Linked DNA regions of Homo sapiens. The protein of the gene in region 1 purifies or fractionates together with the protein of each later gene. This does not show direct contact. Each region holds a gene or a part of one and is shown in the gene's direction. Other genes may lie near its edges.

Region 1 (7,111 bases):
GTGGTATTAAGACAAAATCACAGGATTTGGAGTAAGTCTTGGGTTCTCAAAACTGTCTCCACCACCTGTTGGTGGAGACATCAATTCCTTAACCCTTGGAGCCACAGACCTTCTTTCCAAAAGAGTGCATATCATATGTGGAGTGATGATCATGGGACCTGGTGCATAACCGGCACCCAGTTTGCAGCACTCATCATTCCCATTGCTTTTCAGTGTTCACGGAAATGGATGCACCATTTGAAGTAGAATTTGGTTGTCTTCCTCATATCTGCTCATGTACCATGTAGTTTTTATTTGCGTTAATAAGGCTCAACATCAGTTAAAGGTCTAAAGTAGTTGTAAGACAGTCCTTTCATTCTTATCCTCCTGGTGGAGTGTTGTGGGAATCAAATAAAATACAGCAATTAATTCCAACTCAAGACCAAAATTTGTTAGTAAATAAAGCATTGATGGGAGAAGGGCTGCATATTTTGCAAGGAAGATGTAGATTAGATCATTTCAGTTGGGTTACCCTCGAAGACTAAGTCAGTCTGACTCATGCTGCCACTCAGTTATATGCTCATGCTATCAGGGAGGACTTGGGAAATACAAGGTTTGCTAGATCTGTACTAACATGTCATGGTACATAACAGCTGAAATCAGGCACCTGAAACTCATTGTGCTTGCTAAGACACAGGCTTGATCAAAAACGATATTAGTAAATGTTAAAGTCTCTTTGACCAAAATAACCAGAAGGAAAGTGTTACTAACCTCTTGCACCCTGACTTATCACAAGGCTGGGATTTTTCATACTTCAGCTCTGAGTGCAATGGGTCTTTTCCTGACAGCCTGCCAATAGCAGCTGCGTCCCTTTCTGTGTCCTTCCCACCATGCCTCACATTATCCTCTATCCCTGCACTCTCTATTCTTCATAGCACTGCACTGATTTGCTTGTTTGATTTGTTTTTTTATTGTCTCTCTTACCCACTGGACCTTAAGGCCATGAGGGTTGGTTTCACTCACCTCTTTATATTTATTTTCTAGCACAGTGACTGAAACATCACAAGCAATAAGTAATGACTAAATGAATGAATGAATATATGAACATGATATGCTCATACCAGCTTATTTTACCAGCTTATTGCTTTCACCATAAGAACTCATTTATTCCTCTCTAAGGTACATTGAAATTTACTAATTTACAACAGTGCAATTATTTGTACTGAGTTTTCTTGCCTATGAAAGACTAAATCGTATTCAATGTAAATCAACTAAAAGTTGAGTGCCAAACTATGTTTTAACACATAAAGGCAGTTATAAAAGTAAATACCATTATACTTAATAAGAAAGTTTGTAAACTACGTAAAACCAACAGTATTTCATTAGCGTCAACTTATGTCATTTTCTTTAGGTTTTTAGATTTTTTTTTCTAGGAATCTAATCAGGTAAAGAAAGGATAATATCACTTTTTAGATAAAAATTTAATAAGGTAAAAATAGACTTCTGAATATGAAAGTCATCTACCTTGATACTTTCATTGTCCCAATAATCACTACTGTGATTTGAATTAAATCCATTATTTGCTATATTTGCTATTATATCATTACTTTCTTTCTTTTTCTTTCCTTTTCCCTTCCTTCCTTTCTTCCTTCCTTCCCTCCTTTCTCTTTCTTTCTTCCTTCCTTCCTTCCCTCCTTTCTCTTCCTCTTTCTTTCTCTTCCTTCCTTCCTTCCCTCCTTTCTCTCTTTCTTCCTTTTTCTTTCTTTCTTTCTTCTTTCTTCTTTCTTCCTTTTTCTTTTTCTTCCTTCCTTCCCTCCTTTCTCTCTTTCTTCCTTTCTTTCTTTCTTTTCTTTCTTTCTTTCTTCCTTCCTTCCTTCCTTCTTGCTCTCTGTCTGTCTGTCTGTCTGTCTTTTGATGGAGTCTTGCTCCATCGCCCAGGCTGGAGTGCAGTGGCACAATCTCAGCTCACTGCAACCTCTGTCTCCGAGGTTCAAGCAGTTCTCCTGTCTCAGCCTCCGAGTAGCTGGGATTACAGATGCATGCCACCATGCCTGTCTAATTTTTGTATTTTTAGTAGAGACAGGTTTTCACCACGTTGGCCAGGCTGGTCTTGAACTCCTGACCTCAGGTGGTCTGCCCACCTCAGCCTCCCAAAGTGTTGAGATTATAGGTGTGAGCCACCACGCCCAGCCTTATACCATTATTCTCTGAAGTATTTTCTTCCACTTGATTCCAAAACCCAATCTTCTTCCGGTCACTTGAGTATTTAGTAAATTTCGCTTATTAATTCAAAGAACATTTATTGGATGCCATGTGTGTGAGACACTGGGAATAATATTGCTCCCCACCCTCCAACTCCCACAGAAGAACAAACCTGTCATGGTATAAATGAATATTAACTATGTTATACCAATTGCTTTCTGAGTCCAGCACCTCTGTATTTCATTCTTATTAATTGCAGAATCGTGAAATGTTAAAATATGAAGGGATTTTCAATTTTATGAAAACAAAAAGAGATTGTTTGATTTGCTGAAAGTTACAGAGCTATTTCGTGGGGAGCTGGGACTTGCCTCCAGGCCTCTTAACCCGTTTGCCACCCACACCCTTTTCTCCCTTACTTCTCAGGAGACCAGTCTTATTTTCATTCTTCATTTGAACTGCTTTTCTTTCAGTCTCTCTGCGTCCACTCATTCAACAAATATTTATGCTCCAGGAAGCTCACGATTTTATTGTCTTCCCCACATCTGTTCATACACCTTGTGGTTTTTACTTCAGTTCATGTAATCACTCGCTATTCCTTAGGCAGGTTAGAAACCTCCAAGTTATTTTATTTATTTTATTTATTTATTTATTTATTTATTTATTTATTTATTTATTTTGAATCAGAGTCTCACTCTTGTTGCCCAGGCTGGAGTGCAATGGCACGAACTCGGCTCACTGCAACCTCCACCTCCCTGGTTCATACAATTTTCCTGCCTCAGCCTCCCAAGTAGCCAGGATTACAGGCTTCTGCCACCGCGCCCAGCTAATATTTTGTATTTTTAGTAGAGACAGGGTTTCGCCATGTTGGCCAGGCTGGTCTTAAACCCCTGACCTCAGGTGATCCACCCGCCTCGGCCTCTCAAAGTGCTGAGATTACAGGTATAAGCCACCGTGCCCAGCCAAAAACCTCAAAGTTACTTTTAACTCCTCTCGCCCCTCACGCCTCACATTCGATAAGCAGATAGATTCTGTTGATACCAGTTGCTAAATGTTTCTGGAATCCAGACTTTGTTGTTCATGCCTTTTAATGTCATCCTAGCTGAGGTCCCATCATGTCTTGCCTGCTGTTGCAATAGCCTTCAAGTTGGTTTCCATGGCCTCCAATCGTGTTTTACATTCTCTACTACTGCCAGAATGAGCATTCACTACTGAAGAAAAAGGAGGAGGAGGAAAAGGGGAATCTAATGATGTAAAAGGACAAGAGAGTAACAGATTCATAATTTACTATTTCATAGAGGAAAAGGTTAAAAAATAAAAAAAATTAAAATAACACAAACGTTAGCTAGAAGTTAAAAGCCTTTGTCAATGTGGCTCTCTCTAAATTTCTCTTTCCATCTCCTGTGAGCCCTGACATCTTTGAATCATCGTTTATAGACCCCTTGGTGTCCTTTTACGTCTCCATGCTCTGGTACATATTTCTTCACTCTTCCTGGAATGTGTTTCTGCCTTGTGTGCAAATGCTTCCCTTTCTGTGTCTCCAATCCATTGTGTGGCAGTGGGAGCATTCACACATTGCATGGTCATTGTCAGTGTTTACACACGTACATTCCCTTCAGACATCTAGAGTTCTGTCTCTTAGTCACCATGGGCCATCCACTGCACAGTGCCTGGCACATAGTAGGTGCTTGTTAAGTGAGTACCTTACTCTCTGAAGGTGACAGAGAAATATACAAACAGTATCATTAAAGCGGACTTGTTGCAAAATAGCGGTACACGTGAAGACCATGCAAGCCCAGAAGACCCCCTGACCCCTGTCAGCAATCCTTGTGTGTGAACAGTTTGTATGCTGACATCTGCTGGTAGTACGCAGGTTACGGCAGTCCTCTGCATCATTTTACTGCTACTTCATTCAGCTTGAGCTTTTGCAACCCCCTTTGACTTTACCTCTAATAGCTGAGTCAGAGACAGCCAAGAGAAGGTAAACTAAAAGAGACACTTGCTCTAGTGACTCTCCCTTACTCGTTCTGGAATTTCTCTTCAGGAGAAAGTTTAATACAATAGGGGCATCTTTGGGGTGGGGCTGATTTAGGGCTTTTAATTTTTGTCTAATCTTTTTTTAATCTGCATGGCATTTTCCATTTTATTTTATTTTATTTTTTTTTTTTTTGAGATAAGGTCTGGCTCTGTTGCCCAGGCTGGTGTGCAGTGGCGCAATCTCAGCTCACTGCAACCTCGACCTCTCTGGGCTCAAGCAACCCTCCTGCCTCAGCCTCCTGAGTAGCTGGGACCACAGGCGTATGGCACCACATCTGGCTAATTTTTGTATCTTTTGTAAAGACAGGGCTTGCCATGTTGTCCAGGCTGGTCTTGAACTCCTAGGCTCAAGCAATCCTCCCACCTCAGCCTCCCAAAGTGTTAGGATTACAGGCGTGAGCCACTGACTGCCCTTCTGTGGTTCCTTTTATGGATAACTATTTTCAGTATAATTTCCTTGGGACTATAGACACTATTACTCTTGGCTTTGAGAGCACTCTATCGATCTCAGATACTCTGTAAGGTATTTCCAGTGGAGAATGTATCACGTCTCTTATGCCCGGTTTCCCCCTGCACCATGCTATACTTTTCCACTTTCTCTTCTTGCAGGGATTGTTTCCATTGCCACCCTAACCGTGCTGGCCTATGAACGTTACATTCGCGTGGTCCATGCCAGAGTGATCAATTTTTCCTGGGCCTGGAGGGCCATTACCTACATCTGGCTCTACTCACTGGCGTGGGCAGGAGCACCTCTCCTGGGATGGAACAGGTACATCCTGGACGTACACGGACTAGGCTGCACTGTGGACTGGAAATCCAAGGATGCCAACGATTCCTCCTTTGTGCTTTTCTTATTTCTTGGCTGCCTGGTGGTGCCCCTGGGTGTCATAGCCCATTGCTATGGCCATATTCTATATTCCATTCGAATGGTGAGTTGAAGACTACAGATGCCCCCCTCCCAAACCACATCCAGGGTAGAAAATTTTGTCTGGAAAATAATGAAAGTCTTCCTATGTCATCAGTAGTTGCCCAGAGGTAGAGCAGTTCTAGGGGACTTCCCATCTGGTTGAATTTTATGCTATGAGTCACTCTCTGGAAAGATCAATGCGGAATAGCATTTACTCTCTCTACATCCCTCTCTCAACCAAAAGAAGGAAAGAAAAATCTTCTGACTGACAAAATCAGCAACCAAAAAACCCTACATTATCCAACACTCTTAAAATTTAAGAATTTAAAAGAGGGAACTCCACACTTCCCATAACTTTGTTTATTCAGAGGTCATATGAATTTGACTAGAGAACAGCACAGATGTTTTGTTTGGCGATCACACCAGAGTCATAAAGGGTAAGAACTGACCACAAACAATTTCACGTTGGGTGCCAACAAGAACTTTCCAGTTTGAACTCAAACCCAGTGTGGAACAGGCTCCACTTCCCAGTCTCTAGCTTTGGCCATGGATGTTTCCTTCCTCATTCACTGATTCTTCCAACTCTATTCTCTGCTTCTGTCTCTAGTCTCTTGCTCACTCCGTCAAACCCTTCTAACTTTCACCTTTTTAAAAAATCGGACTTAGCTACATGCATCACTTTAAATCATTTGTTTCTACATTCTTTACATATGCCAACTTTGTTAAAGACAAAATCCCTAGATCAGTTCAATCATCTATTTTCTCTATGCCTGTAGTCAAACTGCAAGGAGGAGCTGGAAAAAAAAAAACAAAACACATCTGTCTACACTTAGATGTCCTCTCAGCCTTGTTCTACCAACCTTTCTATCCCTGTATGTGTGGTCTACTGTCTCCACACTGTGACTATTACACAGACTCATTTCTCATTTTAATTTCTCACCCTACTGTCTCCTCTCATTCTTATCAAGTAAGTCTGCTTCTGATTTATCGGACCAAACAAAGCCATTATCAAGGGTTCCTTTGACTCCTTACCTCTCTTTACACAAACCACTGATTCTTAGGACTCTCTCTTCAGTTACAGGGCGACAGGAGAGGTCTCCCAGGACCAACTCGATTCTGTATTCTGATTGCTCCCCCACCCCCTTCCATGCCCCAGAGACACTTCTTAATAATTTTCTCTTTCCCTTGTATCTTCACACTCTCCCTTACCACTGGCCCTTTCCCTTTAGCATATTACCAGGCTATTTTGTTTTTAATCACAATCTACTCTCAGCTCCCTCTAGCTATCACTTTATTTTTCTCCATTTTGTCACTGCTAACTCAAAGAACCATTGGTGACTCTTGGTGCCACAATGTCACTCACTAAGCATTCATTTACCTGATATTTATTGAGCATATCAAATATGCCAATTTCTTGCTGTTATAGACTGAATGTTTGTGTCCCTCTCAGATTCCTACGTGGAATCTCTAACCACCGATGTGACAGTATTTGGGGATGGGGCCTTGGGAGGTAATTAGGGTCAGAGGAGGTCATGAGGATGGGGCTCTGGTCTGATGGGATTAGGGGATTAGTGTCCTTGTAAGAAGAGACACCAGAAAGCTTGCTCTTTCTCTCTCTCTCTCTATCTCTATCTCTCTCTCTCTGTCTCTCTTTCTGTCTTCCCACGAGTGCATAAATAAGAGAACATGGAAGCACACAGTGAGATAACAGTCAAGAGAGGAGGCCTCAGAATGATACCTACCTTGCCAGCTACTCTACCTGGGACTTCCCAGCCTCCAGAACTGTGAGAAATACATTTCTGTTGTAGTTCAGGGAGTTGGTAGTTTAGTAAGTTTATCTAGCATTCATTCCTCAACTTAAGGCAAACTTGTGACTCCTTCCTCTACCGCACTGCCACTAATACAGCCCTCATTTCAGGTCATTGATGAGCTCCCAGATATGTGATCCCATGGACACATTTTTATTCCTTTCTAGCATCCTCAGCGTTT
Region 2 (7,111 bases), about 200 Mb from region 1:
ACACCAGCACTGATAATGCCAAAGGCTGGTGAGGATGTGGGAAACAAGCACATACGTACACTGCGGGCGAGAACATAAATTGATAAAGCCATCTTTGGAGAGCAGTTGACATCACTGTCAATTTTTTTTTTTTTTTCGGAGTTTCACTCTTGTTGCCCAGGCTGGTGTGCAATGGTGCAATCTCAGCTCACTGAAACCTCCGCCTCCCGGGTTCAAGCGATTCTTCTGCCTCAGTCTCCTGAGTCGCTGGAATTACAGGCATGTGCCACCACGCCCAGCTAATTTTTTGTATTTTTAGTAGAGATGGCGTTTCTCCATGTTGGTCAGGCTGGTTGCGAACTCCCGACCTCAGGAGAACTGCCCACCTCAGCCTCCCAAAGTGCTGGGATTACAGGCGTAAGCCACCGCACCTGGCATCACTGTCAAATTTTTTTACTTTGACTTAACAGTTTCATTTCTAGAAATTAATCTTATAGATAAGCTTATACATGTATGCACCCTTAATCTCAAAACCTTGAAAACATATCAATAGATCTAATGGCCCAGGTTGGCACCAATACTGTACAGTGATTCTTGAAGCCTAGGCACAGTGGTTCATGCCAATAATCCCAACACTTTGGGAGGCTGAAATGTGAGGATCGCTTGAGCCTAGACAACATAGCAGGAACCCATCTCTACAAAAAAATTAAAAATTAGCCAGGCACAGTGGCACACACGTGTTGTCCCAGCTACTCAAGAGGCTGAGGCAGGAGGATTGCTTGAGCCTGAGAGGTCAAGGCTGCAGTGAGCTGAGATCGCACCACTGCACTCTAGCCTGGGTGACAGAGGGAGACCCTGTCTTAAAAATAATAATAAAAATTAAAATGACTGATTGCTTTTGGTATTATTCCTAAACCTAAAATAAGGTGGGGAGGGGAGTTGCTGAAGGAATTAACCCCACCAACTCTGTAGACGCCACATCATTTCCTTCTTCAGTTTCTTCCCCCTTCCCTTTTTTAAAGTCATATGCCTTCCTTTTGGGCTTTAGAATCAAACAGACCTCAGTTCACATCTCAACTCAACTTAGTGGCTGTGCACCAAGTGAAATTTTTAATCATTAAGCCCTCAGATTTTCCTTTTTTTTTTTTTTTTTTTTAATTTTAATTTTTTGAGACAGAGTCTTGCTCTGTCGCCTAGGCTGGAGTACAGTAGTGCTATCTCAGCTCACTGCAGCCTCCTCCTCCTGGATCCAGGTGGTTCTTGTGCCTCAGCCTCCCGGGCAGCTGAGACTACAGGGGCACACCACCACCCTTGGCTAATTTTTGTGTTTTTAGTAGAGACAGGGTTTTGCAATGTCACCCAGGCTGGTCTTGAACTCCTGGCCTCAAGCAAGCCACCCACCTCACTTTCCCAAAGTGCTGAGATTACAGGTATGAGCCACTGCGCCCAGCCCCAGATTTTCTTAATTAGACAATTGGGACAATAATAGCTACCTTGGAGAATTGTGAGAATTACATATAATTAAATGACAGGTATATGCACTACTCCTTGAGTGTACCAAAAGACTTAGAATTCCTCATACATACCGTGCCATTATACCTCTCCATGCTTTTACATGTGCTCTCTCTAGATTTCCTCTCTTGAAGACTCCGACCAAGTGTTTTCTCCTTTGTAGAACCTTCTCTGCCTCTTCCCATGACTCCCCATAGCAGAACTACACATTCCTTCCACTGTGTCCTTGAGCTTTGCCACACCTTTATTAAAGTATGTTTCACAAGCCATGGCAATTATCCGTGAATCAGCCTTCCCTACTAAGATCCTCAAGGTCAGCTGGGCATGATGGCTCACACCTGTAATCCTAGCACTTTGGGAGGCCGAAGTGGGCGGATCACCTGAGGTCAGGAGTTCGAAACCAGCCTGACCAACATGGTGAAACCCCGTCTCTACTAAAAATACAAAAAATAGCCAAGTGTGGTAGTGCATGCCTGTAATCCCAGCTACCTGGGAGGTTGAGGCAGGAGAATTGCTGGAACCCAGGAGGCGGAGGCTGCAGTGAGCTGAGACTGCACCACTACACTCCAGTCTGGGTGACAGAGCAAGACTCCATCTCAAAAAAAAAAAAAAGATCCTCAAGGTCGATTGTCTCATAACTATATGCATCCCTAGCTCTCAGAACAGGTCCTGATTTATGGTAAATGCTCAGAAGGGGAAAAGAGTGAATGAATGAATGTTGGATCCATGAAACATATTTTGGGGGATTTCAGGGTATAAAGTTAGGGTTCCAAGAAAGGCCTCTGTGCGATGGTTGCAATCATCATGAGATGGGCTTCATAAACTCCTGGGCTTTCTGGCTTTAATTAACACTATGTGTCCACCTTTTAGCAAGGAGACCCTTTAATGGTCCTGCTGAAGGAGGGCTGGCCAGGGAAGTCATCTTGTCTGGGCTCTAAACTGGACAACCCCACCACTTCCTTCTCTCTGTCCTCTGCTGGAAGGACCAGTGCATCCAGCACAGTGGTCAGTGCCCTCCTGCCACAGGAACTCCCTGGCCAGTTGCCTTTTTCCACTATTACTTCTTCTTTTTTTTTTTTTTTTGAGACTGAGCCGTATGGTGAAAGCAAACTCCTAACCATCAGTGCAGCACTCAAGACTTGTTACTATAGGTGACCTAGGCAAACACCAACAACTCACATCCTTACCAGCAAAGAGCTCAATAGATGGCAAAGTCTTCCGTCAGTCTTCCTCACATGAAGGGGTTTCAGGAAAAAACATTCATCCTAAGAAATAATGCAGTCTCAGCCGGATGCGGTGGCTCATGCCTGTAATCCCAGCACTTTGGGAGGCTGAGGCGGGTGGATCCCTGTGGTCAAGAGTTCGAGACCAGCCTGACCAACATGGAGAAACCCCATCTCTACTAAAAATACAAAAAATTAGCCGGGCGTGGTAGTGCATGCCTGTAATCCCAGCTACTTGGAAGGCTGAGGCAGAAGAATTGCCTGAACCTGGAAGGCAGAGGTTGTGGTGAGCTGAGATCACGCCATCACACTCCATCTTGGGCAACAAGAGCGAAACTCCATCTCAAAAAAAAAAAAAAAGACATAATGCAGTCTCCTCTCCAAATTCTAATCATTTTCATGCTCCAGAGTCACCACATCCATAGCAGTCTTTTTCCCCAAAAGTATGGCTCGTAACTCAGTGTAGGCCTCCCTACCCTCTTCTAGCACCAACACGAAAACAAGCCATTTTATAACAACTCTGACTTTTCTCACCCCATCCCAATACTCTCATTGGTTATCTCTGGCAAAAATACTGGCAGCCAAATTTGACCTTCTCAAGCAGTAGAATGGCTACAGCTAACAGTCAAAACCTAAAAAATGGCTGGGTACAGAGGCTGTAGCTCACGCCTGTAATCCCAGCACTTTGGGAGACCAAGGCGAGTGGATCACTTGAGGTCAAGAGTTCGAGACCAGCCCAGCCAACATGGTGAAACCTCATCTCTACTAAAAATACAAAAATTAGCTGTGTGTGATGGCACACACCTGTAATCCCAGCTACTTGGGAGGCTGAGGCAGGAGAATCACTTGAACCTGGGAGGCGGAGGTTGCAGTGAGCAGAGATCATACCACTGCACTCCAGCCTGGGCAACAGAGCAAGACTCCATTCAGAAAAAAAAAAAACAAAAAAAAAAAACACTAACTGCTAAAAGCATGCTTCATCTGAGTCTCTTCTTACAGTCAGTGACAGAACTTGGATCTCTTCCCTATGGCCAGAGTGATCAGTTCTTTGACCATGAAAGTAGACCTGGTATAGGTCAGGCTGTTGATGTATACTTGACACAGGTCAAATCCTCCTGGCCAGCAGGAAGCTTTCCCAGTTTCCCAACAGTGCACCTTTTATTTGTGATGTTTTTCCCTTCTATCCCATTGCTATTTTCCCAACTTATCATCCTCCCTTGTATTTTTCCCCTTGGGATCTTTCCCAACCTGATTCCAGCCCAAAGATTTTCCAGTGTATTTACTGGACCCTACTCCCATCCCTGACCAAGCATCACTAGCTTTGCTTAGTTTTTTGTTTTTTTGAGACAGGGTCTTACTCTGTCACCCAGGCTGAAGTGTAGGTGGCACAGTCACAGCTCACTGTAGCCTTGACCTCCCGGGCTCAAGCGACCTCCCTCCCTGGCCCCTGAGTAGCTGAGACCACAGGCATATGCCACCACATCCAGCTAATATTTTTATTTTTTGTAGAGATGGTGTCTAACTATTGCCCAGGCTGGTCTCAAACTCCTGGGCTGGGGCAATCCACCCACCTTGGCCTCCCGAAGTGCTGGATTGCAGGAGCGAGCCACCACGCCCGGCCTAGTTCTGCTTGTTGTGCCTCTACAGGTTTCCTCCAACTTACTGAATCACCATGAAAATACATCAACCCCAACATGCCAGATATAGTCTCTGTTCCCTGGCTCCCCCTGCCCCTTCCAGGCTATTGGCTCACTGCCTCCTTTCTATAGTTCTTTTTCCTTGAAAGTTTTCTATAGCTCTTCTTACCTTTCACCGCATCATTGATCAGCTTCCAGGGTACTTCCCTACATTTATTAAGAGCTTTAGCCTGTGGTTCACAGTCTTCCTCTCCTCTCCCTCACTTGTCCATAACATCTTGGACAACTTAAACATATTCATCAGTAAACTGTCCAGCTCTCCGGCTTCATGATTCCCTGAACTTCTCTACCAACCTTCATCTGCATTCAGCTTTAGCTCTCCAGTTATATGACCATATCCTATCTTAGTCATTACCCAAAACCTCTAAAATCATCATGTGGCAGTAGCTATGCTAGACACTGGGGATATAATCATAACTACACTGTTCCATCTCTCCTCTCAATGTTCTTGGTTTGTTTTTTTTTTTTTTTTTGAGACAGAGTTTCACTCTTGTTGCCCAGGCTGGAGTGTAATGCTGCGATCTCGGCTCACTGCAACCTCCACCTCTTGGGTTCAAGCAATTCTGCTGCCTCAGCCTCCCGAGTAGCTGGGATTACAGGCATGCGCCACCATGCCTGGCTAATTTTGTATTTTTAGTAGAGATGGGGTTCCATCATGTTGGCCAGGCTGGTCTTGAACTCCCGACCTCAGGTGATCCACCTGCTTTGGCCTCCCAAACTGCTGGGATTAGAGGCATGAGCCACCGCGCCCAGCGCCCTCAATGTTCTTATAGTGAAGTAGAGGAGAGTGGTATAATGATGTAGGAATAGAGATATATATTAGGTACAGTGGTTTCACAAAGCAGGAAATGGACAGTGCAAAAGGGAAGGCATCGCATATTAGAGGTGCTACGTTAGGGCACATAGGGTAGTAAGAGTGCAACAGGAAAAAATGGAGGGGGAAGCATTCTAGGCAGAGGGTTGTGCCAAAGTTCAAAGGTATAAAACAGGGCCAAGTGCGGTGGCTCACGCCTGTAATCCAGCACTTTGGGAGGCCAAGGCAGGGCAGATCACTTGAGCCCAGGAGTTCCAGACCAGCCTGGCCAACATGGTGAAACCCCATCTCTACTAAAAATACAAAAAAAAAAAAAAAAAAAATTAGCCATGTGTGGCGTCATATGCCTGTAGTCCCAGCTACTGGGGAGGCTGAGGCGGGAGAATCACTTGAACCCAGGAGGCGGAGGTTGCAGTGAGCCAAGATTGCGCCACTGCACTCCAGCCTGGGTGACAAAGCAAGACTCCATCTCAAAAAAAAAAAAAGGGATTAAAACAGTATGGCTTACTGGCAAAATGGAGAATAGTGGGAAATGAAGCTGGAGAGGTAGGCAAAGATGTCATGGAGGGCCTTATGGGTTTGACCTTTATAGAAATAATAATAGCCACAACTTATTGAGCATTCACTTACCTTTAACTCATTGAATTCTCACAACAACCCTATGCAGTAGGTGTCATTATTTCCATATTATATATGAGGTATTGCCCTTTCTTATCTCCGTTTATCCTTTTAGCCTCATTTCTTACCCTTATCCCCTCATTTCCTATTCTCTGGCCACACCACAGTATTTCATGGTCCCCTTTCTCCCATCTCACTGTCTTTGCCCTTGCTGTTCTAACAGCCTAGAATCCCTTCCATCACTGCCTGTAGAAACTATTCACCCTTTAAGACCCAGTTTCAGTTCTCCTATTTAAAGCCTCACCACAGCCAGGTATATAGACAGTTGGTCCCATCCTCCTGCATAGGAAGGTGCTCTCTCTCTCATATCCCTATTTCCAAGAGCTTCTCAAGATCACAGCCACAATAGTAGAGAAATAAATTTTTGTGAACACAGAATTAGAAGCAGTTGGGTTTGGCTGGGCGTGGTGGCTCATACCTGTAATCCCAGCACTTTGGGAGGCTGAGGCTGGCAGATCACCTGAGGTTAGGAGTTCGAGACCAGCCTGGCCAACACGGTGAAACCCCATCTCTACTAAAAATACAAAAGTTAGCCAGGCGTGGTGGCGGGCGCCTGTAATCCCAGCTACTCAGGAGGCTGAGGCAGGAGAATCGCATGAACCTGGGAGATGGAGGTTGCAGTAAGCCGAGATTGTGCCACTGCACTCCAGCCTGGGTGACAAGAGCGAAACTCGGTCTCCAAAAAAAAAAAGCAGTTGGGTTTGAAATGTCATCTTGCTGCCAGTTCTCAGAAAACTTTTTTCCTTTTCTTTTGTAGCTAAACGAGTGAATGAGGTGATCGTGGGGAATGACCAGCTCATGGAGATCTGAGTTCTGAGCAAGTCAGACTCCTTCCTTTTGGCCTCCAAAGCCACAGATGTTGGCCGGCCCACCTGTTTAACTCTGTATTTATTTCCCAATAAAGAAGGGCTTCCAAAGGCATGCTGGAGACTTGTGGAGCAGTCCAAAGCTCCATGTCAGGTGGGCTCCAGGTGTACACAGTGTATGTTCATGTGTCATGTGGTAAAGATCATCTGGAGCAAGTGTGTGGGACAGGACAGATACAGTGGCCTAACTCTTGTGTGCCAAGATGTATCGGTGGGGCAGCAGCTGTCCAATGTAAAGCTCCTAGGAAGGCTACTTTCTGACTGGCTGACCCAACCCAGTCCTGAAAGTATCCCTCACCTAAAAGGACCTGGGAGTACTTCAGTCCCTTATCCTAATCAGCC
Region 3 (7,057 bases), on another chromosome or scaffold:
ACTTTTCACTATTTCTCACTCTTTCTCTTAGAATCAGCCTTTCCCTCCCATTGCAGGGTCATGAAATGGCTGTGAATTTGTCCAAAGCAGGTATTGAGACAACTGTCATGACTGATGCTGCCATTTTTGCCGTTATGTCAAGAGTCAACAAGGTGGGTATATCTGGAGTTATGTTGAATTCATGAAGATTATGTTTCTAAAATATTGATTTTTATCTCCTCCTGTAATATCCACGGTGAGAGAATAAAGTTTCTAGCACCTTTCAAAGTACATACTTAGGCCTTTTTAATCTGTTAACTGAATTTCTTTTCCCTTTTTTCTGCATCATTGTTCCTCTCTTGGAGTAGCCTCTAAATTTGGTTGAAGCATTGAAAAGAATGAAGTATTAAATAGAACTAAGGCAAGAGTGTCAGTTTCTAGGGATTGGCTACAGGGCTCCTGCCTTATGCTCAAAGAGCTTGGCAGTTGTGGATAGTGAATGAAAAAGATTCCTGGCTTCTCAGAAGGTATGGCATCTCAATTTCCAGAAAATATGGGACTGAGAGCAGTAGGTTTTGCAGTTTCTTGTCCCATTTTACATTCATTCTTTCCTTGGAAACCTACTTTTAAGCTAGAACTTGTATTGAGCCAGGGATCCCTTCACCTCTACCAGTCTGTGACCCCTCACGATACCAATTCTGAGGTCTAAGCATTTAGCTTTTTGTGGCCAGTGGCCCTTTTAGGGCTCCACCCCCAGGATGGCTCACATTTTTTGTCTTGTCCCAAAGGTGATCATTGGCACGAAGACCATCCTGGCCAATGGGGCCCTGAGAGCTGTGACAGGAACTCACACTCTGGCACTGGCAGCAAAACACCATTCCACCCCACTCATCGTCTGTGCACCTATGTTCAAACTTTCTCCACAGGTAAGTGTGTCTGTCTCTAGCTAGAAGCCAGCAGAAAAGAAGGAAGCCAAAGGGTAGGCTTGAACTCTGGGACTTCAACCACCTCACTCCAGGGCCTCCATTTATCTGCATTTACTCAATGGATTACACCCAGTGGAGGCTGGAAAGAACCACAGAAGTCTTGATTCAGTAAAACAGTTGAGAGTTCTCAGCTGTCAACTTTAGGAAGTCAAGATTGTAAGGACAATATGTAGTTGGGAAAGGTCCTTTGCTTACGATTGCCACCACTCCCTGTCGCCTGACCATTTCTGAAAATGCCAAGCAGGTTGAAAGTAGGATCATAGAATCAGTTTTGTTATTGTTGCAGGGCCTGTCCTTTGTAACCTGAATACAAGCAAGGACTAAGTGAAGAGCCATTTCATCAGTGATAGAAGCTATTTGCTTTGAAAACATCAACCTATTTATAGGTCTCTATTTTTTAAATTGAGGTGAAATTCACATAACATACAATTAACCATTTTAAAGTATACAATTTAGTGATATCTAGTACATTCACAGCATTGTACAACCACCACTCTCTAGTTTCAAAACTTTTTCTCCACTGTAGAAAAACACCCTGTACCCATTAAGTAATCTCTCCCTATTTGTCCTTCTCCCCATCTCCTCCAATCTGCTCCTGTCTCTATGGATTTGCCCATTTTGTATAAAAGGAATCATATAATATGTGACATGTTGTGCCTGACTTTTTTCACTTAGCATGATGTTTTCAAAGTTCATCCATGTTGTAATGTCAGAATTTCCTTTCGAGGCTGAATAATATTCCATTATATGAACATACCACAATTTATTAATCCATTCATCTGTTTATGGGCATTTGGGTTGGTTCCAGCTTTTGGCTTTTGTGAATAATGCTGCTATAAGCATCTGTGTATAAGTTTTCTGTGTGGACATATGTTTTCATCTCTAGGGTACATACCTAGGAGTGGAATTGCTGGGTCTCTAGTTTTTATAAATTTTTTCCTTTTTAGTTCCCCAATGAAGAAGACTCATTTCATAAGTTTGTGGCTCCTGAAGAAGTCCTGCCATTCACAGAAGGTACAGAAGCTGTGTGTGCATGCGTGCATGTGTTGTGTGTATTCGGGGTTTGTGTGTGCATGTGTTTTGGTCTTTTTGTTGTTTTGTTGGTCAGTAGAACTGAATGCTGTCAAGTTGTGTTTTTTATCATACTTCTTGTGGGGACTGTTTTCTTTAGAAGCTCAAAGTGCTTGAGGACCTGACCAAGTCCATGTTAATTTGTTCTGAGACAAATATATTTTAGATTTGTTGGGGCTATTGTGGGTTGGATCATTTAGCATTGTCTGGGTTTGGCTTTGCATGCTGTTTGAGATATAGACAACAACCAGTTGGGAAAATGTACCTGTTTTCCTGCTATAAGGAGTCATTTTGGTGAATTGACTCCCAAAGGAAGCAGGTTGTGAAATGTTCCTCCTTAGAAAACTCACCTGTAGCCTGGATAGTCTCATGTCTTGGGGTTCTTTTCTCTGGCTTCTTCTGAAGGCAGCAGCTCAGCTCATTACGCGTGCAGCCTCATCAGCAAGGGTGGCCTTACACACCATCTGAGAGCAACGCATAGTAGTTGGTTGGGGTCCTAGTTCCTCTTGGAAGTTGATTGACTTCATCCCTTTATTTAAATAAACATTCAATCTTCAAGAAATAGTTATTGAGCACCTACAATGTATCCAGCACTCTTCTAGGCACTGAAGATAAAACAATGAATGAAAAAGATAAGGCCCTGTTCCCACACATTCTATTGTGGAAGACAGATGAGAAAGTATCAGGTCATGGGATGCCTGAGGACAAGCAAGGCTGATGTGGTAGAAAGTGGCTAGGGGCCTGAGATTGAGGAAGGGTCTTAATGAGATGACATTTCAGCTGAGTCCTGAATGAACAGAGTCCACCATATGAAGATCATAGTTTTCTATGAGCTGGTGCAGGGGCTTAGCCAGTTAGAAAAGGATGGCCATACATGGCTAGACAGTAATGAGCAAGGGGGAGAGTGGTCCAAATTGTAATTCATGTGGTGTGTCAGGGAGGGCCCAGATCTTAAACTTCAATCCTGAGTTTGAATTTTATTCTGAGGGCTGTGCAGAGGCATGGGAGAGTTGTAAGCAGGGATTGTCATGATCTGAAGTCATCTCTTCTGGTTTGCATTTTTCCATAGCTTCCCGTCCTTGGGGAGCTAATATGCCTGCATTCTCGAGCCTGGAATCTATATGCTACTTAATTATGAGAGAGGGAGCCTCAGTTTTACCTTTAGCATGTGTGCTTGCCTTTCAGGGGACATTCTGGAGAAGGTCAGCGTGCATTGCCCTGTGTTTGACTACGTTCCCCCAGAGCTCATTACCCTCTTTATCTCCAACATTGGTGGGAATGCACCTTCCTACATCTACCGCCTGATGAGTGAACTCTACCATCCTGATGATCATGTTTTATGACCGACCACACGTGTCCTAAGCAGATTGCTTAGGCAGATACAGAATGAAGAGGAGACTTGAGTGTTGCTGCTGAAGCACATCCTTGCAATGTGGGAGTGCACAGGAGTCCACCTAAAAAAAAAATCCTTGATACTGTTGCCTGCCTTTTTAGTCACCCCGTAACAAGGGCACACATCCAGGACTGTGTCTTGCCTTTCAGATCTTAACAGAGCAGCAGGGCTTAACTTGTTGATTTTGGAGCCTCTTAGTGACCTGGTTGCGTCTGTGTCAGGAACTTAAACTTTCTGGTTCAGTAGTGTGTTAAACATAACACTGAATACCTTACTGGGATACAGATTTTTGCTCAGAAATGGCTATGACACTTTTTCTAGGCTCTACCAATAAAAGCCACTTGAAGGTTCCATAGTTGGTTTATTTATTGTCCTACTCTGACAGAACTGCTTGAAACAGCAGCAGCAGAGCCTTTTTTGTGTTTGCATAGAGGGCTGTAGTTAGCGGGAAAAGTGTACAACATGGTAGTACTGGCCAGATGCAGTGGCTCCCACTTGTAATCCTGGACTTTGGGAGGCTGAGGTGGGAGGCTTGTTTGAGGCTTGTTTGAGGCCTGGAGTTTGAGATTAGCCTGGCAACATAGCAAGATCCTGTCTCTACAAAAAAATATTTTAAAAAATTAGCCAGACATGGTGGCACATGCCTGTGGCCTCGCTATGCTGGAGGCTGAGGTGGGAGGATCACTTGAGCCCATGAGTTCAAGGCTTCAGTGAGCTATCATTGTACCACTGCACTCCTGCCTGGATGATAGAGCAAGACTCTGTCTCTAAAAAAATAACAAGTACAAATGAAAGTATAGTTTCCTTTACAATTCACTGCTCCTGGCCCCAAAGTTTGTTCATAGTCTAAAACAGTAGTTCCAAAACCTCGCTGATCATCAGAATCACCTGAGAGTGATTCCGATCACTCACTCACACAGTCTTGGGTTTCATCTCAGTCCTACTGCATCTGATCTCAGGGTTACTACCTGGGAATCTGTTTAAAGCTTCCCAGAAAAGGATAGTCTCATGTAGTGTTTATAGGACTATAAATTGGTACAGCCTTTTAGAGGGCAATTTGGAAGCTGTATTTCTAGAATTATTTGTACAAGCAAAAAGATTTATACAGAGTGTTCAGTGTAGTAGTTGTAATGTCATAGCCTAAGTGTCCAGCAATAGGAGAAAGGTTAAGTATTGACAGTTACACCGTGGAACATTATACATGGCAATAGAAGTTTCAAAAGGATGGCTGGAGGGGCAGTGTCTGGATTGAAGGCATTTGGGCTGGTTCACTGCATTTAATGTGAATTTGTTACCAATATTTAAAAATCTGGAGATTGCACATTTCAAAAATTCAGATTTCTTGCTTTTCTTGAAAACTCAAATTTGGCAACTCTGGGCCAACATTTCCAAATGGCAGTAGTTAGTTTGTGGTTGGGTAACATCTGATGCCATTGGATGGAACATCTCCAGTTTTCTGCAGTTCCTACTGGATCCATTTAACTCATTTATGTTATCTGCCTAACCCCTGTAGGCATTTGAGTTGTGATCCTGGTGTTAAAAGAATGGGACAGATTTGCAAGGAAGTCCATTTGATACTCTGTTAGTTAAAAACAAGCTGGGGAAAAAAAACACAACAAGCTGCAGAGCAATATGCATAATACGGACTCATTTCCATAAAACAACACTGGCTGGGCGCAATGGCTCACGCCTATAATCCCAGCACTTTGGGAGGCTGAGGAGGGCAGATCACTTGAGGTCAGGAGTTTGAGACCAGCCTGGTCAAAATGGCGAAACTAAAATACTATAATAAAATTTTTAGTTCCACTAAAAATACAAAAATTAGCCAGGTGTGGTTGTGGGTACCTGTAGTCCCAGCTACTCGGGAGGCTGAACTTGGGAAGTAGAGGTTGCAGTGAGCAGTGCCATTGGGCCACTGCACTTTAGCCTGGGCAACAGTGGGTGAGACTCTGTCTCACAAAAACAAAACAAAATTATATGTACACGCATAGGGAAACAGTATAGAAGTATAATACCAAGCACAGCAAGCAGAGGGACATCCTCTAATTTTGTTGACATGTTTATGCTTACATATTGTTTCCGGTTTTTAACCTAAAAAGTCTCCCAGGTGATCCAGATTTTCTGCCATGTTTAGGAACTAGTGGTCCAAAGCAGGGCCTCTTGTGCAGTGTCTGTGTGGGTGGAGGGAGCACTAAGAATCTGCATGTTTAACAAATAGCCTGTGGGCTTTGAACAGGTGATTTGAAACCACATTTTGGTTAACACTGGGCAGAGGTAGGTTCTGAGGGAAAGGTCTCTATTCTTTGATATCTCTTTGAGAGCGATCTTTGCCTTAGGTCTTCCAGAGAGGGGAAAAAAGTAAGACCTCAGAAAGTCGGCATTTTACACTGACCTAAAAGCTGTATGACTCAGAAGAGCCTGACTCACTCAGGCTCAGTCTTTCTATTATTTCTTAAAGCATCTAAGACCCCACGCTTTCTCAGTGAAGTGGCTTGTAGCTACCAATTACGAGCAATTGTCTCCTCCAAAGGCACCAATTCTAACAGCAATTCACTTGGGTACAATTGTGTGGTTTGGAGTAAGAGCAGCAGTGAGGCAAGGAACTTAAATCTGTTCCTGGCTCCAAAAATGCTTTATGATACTTGTCCTTTGTCCATCTTAGTCTCTGTGTCTAAAATTAGCACCAACATCCTTCCCAGGCATGACTGAGTTGGATGAAGGTTATAAGGGTAGAAGCTCTCTTTCTGGTCAGCTCTTACAGTGCCTAGAACAGAACTGCAGGAATGCATACTTTTTAGAATCTTTATGACCCCAATTAAGTAAACCCTATTAAGGCTCATCTTCTTATTTCCCCTCTCTCCGTTTCCCTATTTGAGGAGGGGTAAGTATCAGAAAGAGAGAACCTGAACTGAACAGGAGGAAACAGAAGTTCCACATCAACTCACTACCTGTCAGCCTTGGTATCAGGGGTGCCCACCTCCCACCCCTGCCTTGCTGGCGGAACCGAGAAACTCGGAAAAAAACAAACAAAAAAACAACTGTTGTAGCTTGGAGAGAATTAATAGAACTAGGATTCCATGGATGTGAAAGTCTTCCTCAATATGCTAAATAAACCAAGTTAGATAACAGTGCAGTTTGTAAAGACACTTTTTTCCCACGGTTTCTATCTTCCAGTTTGGGCAGAGGGCAGGAAAGGCACAATTCTTGGAACTTGAATAAGGAACAGAAATTCCTAATTTAGCCTCAGAAGAGACATCTCTGAAAAATACTCTACCAGGAAAAACTGAAGTGTAAAATGATACCTCAAAGAAATCAATGCTGGAACCCATAGGATCATATGTTTCATGGATGTGCTTCAAAACTATTTCTCAAAGCAATCTGTTGCATCAGTCTTTGGGCTAATGAAGGCTGCCAGTCACAGTTCCATCATGGAATGACTGGCATACTCTGTAATGATCTATAATACTACAACTACATCAGAACTGCTCTGCCATACAGATAGTACCAGATGGTGATGTGATTATTGTAAAGGCCTCACACTATCCACCTGTCCTTGCAAAAACTCCCTTAGCAGACATGCACCTAGTTGACATGAAAGAACAATTTTGAAATGTGATTTGGAAGTGTT

What was found.
Region 2: the proteins of OPN3 (region 1) and EIF2B3 purify together in Homo sapiens (affinity purification with mass spectrometry; 3 studies listed by BioGRID and IntAct, with this or other methods). This does not show direct contact.
Region 3: the proteins of OPN3 (region 1) and EIF2B2 purify together in Homo sapiens (affinity purification with mass spectrometry; 3 studies listed by BioGRID and IntAct, with this or other methods). This does not show direct contact.

What each region holds. Positions count from the first base shown.
Region 1 is NC_000001.11:241,602,293-241,609,403, reverse strand, and holds part of OPN3 (opsin-3), read left to right. Parts: intron 1-4,824; coding exon 4,825-5,144; intron 5,145-7,111.
Region 2 is NC_000001.11:44,850,553-44,857,663, reverse strand, and holds part of EIF2B3 (translation initiation factor eIF2B subunit gamma), read left to right. Parts: intron 1-6,660; coding exon 6,661-6,713; 3' UTR 6,714-7,111. UniProt on the Homo sapiens protein: Acts as a component of the translation initiation factor 2B (eIF2B) complex, which catalyzes the exchange of GDP for GTP on the eukaryotic initiation factor 2 (eIF2) complex gamma subunit.
Region 3 is NC_000014.9:75,005,810-75,012,866, forward strand, and holds the end of EIF2B2 (translation initiation factor eIF2B subunit beta), read left to right. Parts: intron 1-56; coding exon 57-152; intron 153-767; coding exon 768-905; intron 906-1,912; coding exon 1,913-1,979; intron 1,980-3,221; coding exon 3,222-3,379; 3' UTR 3,380-6,557; downstream 6,558-7,057. UniProt on the Homo sapiens protein: Acts as a component of the translation initiation factor 2B (eIF2B) complex, which catalyzes the exchange of GDP for GTP on eukaryotic initiation factor 2 (eIF2) gamma subunit.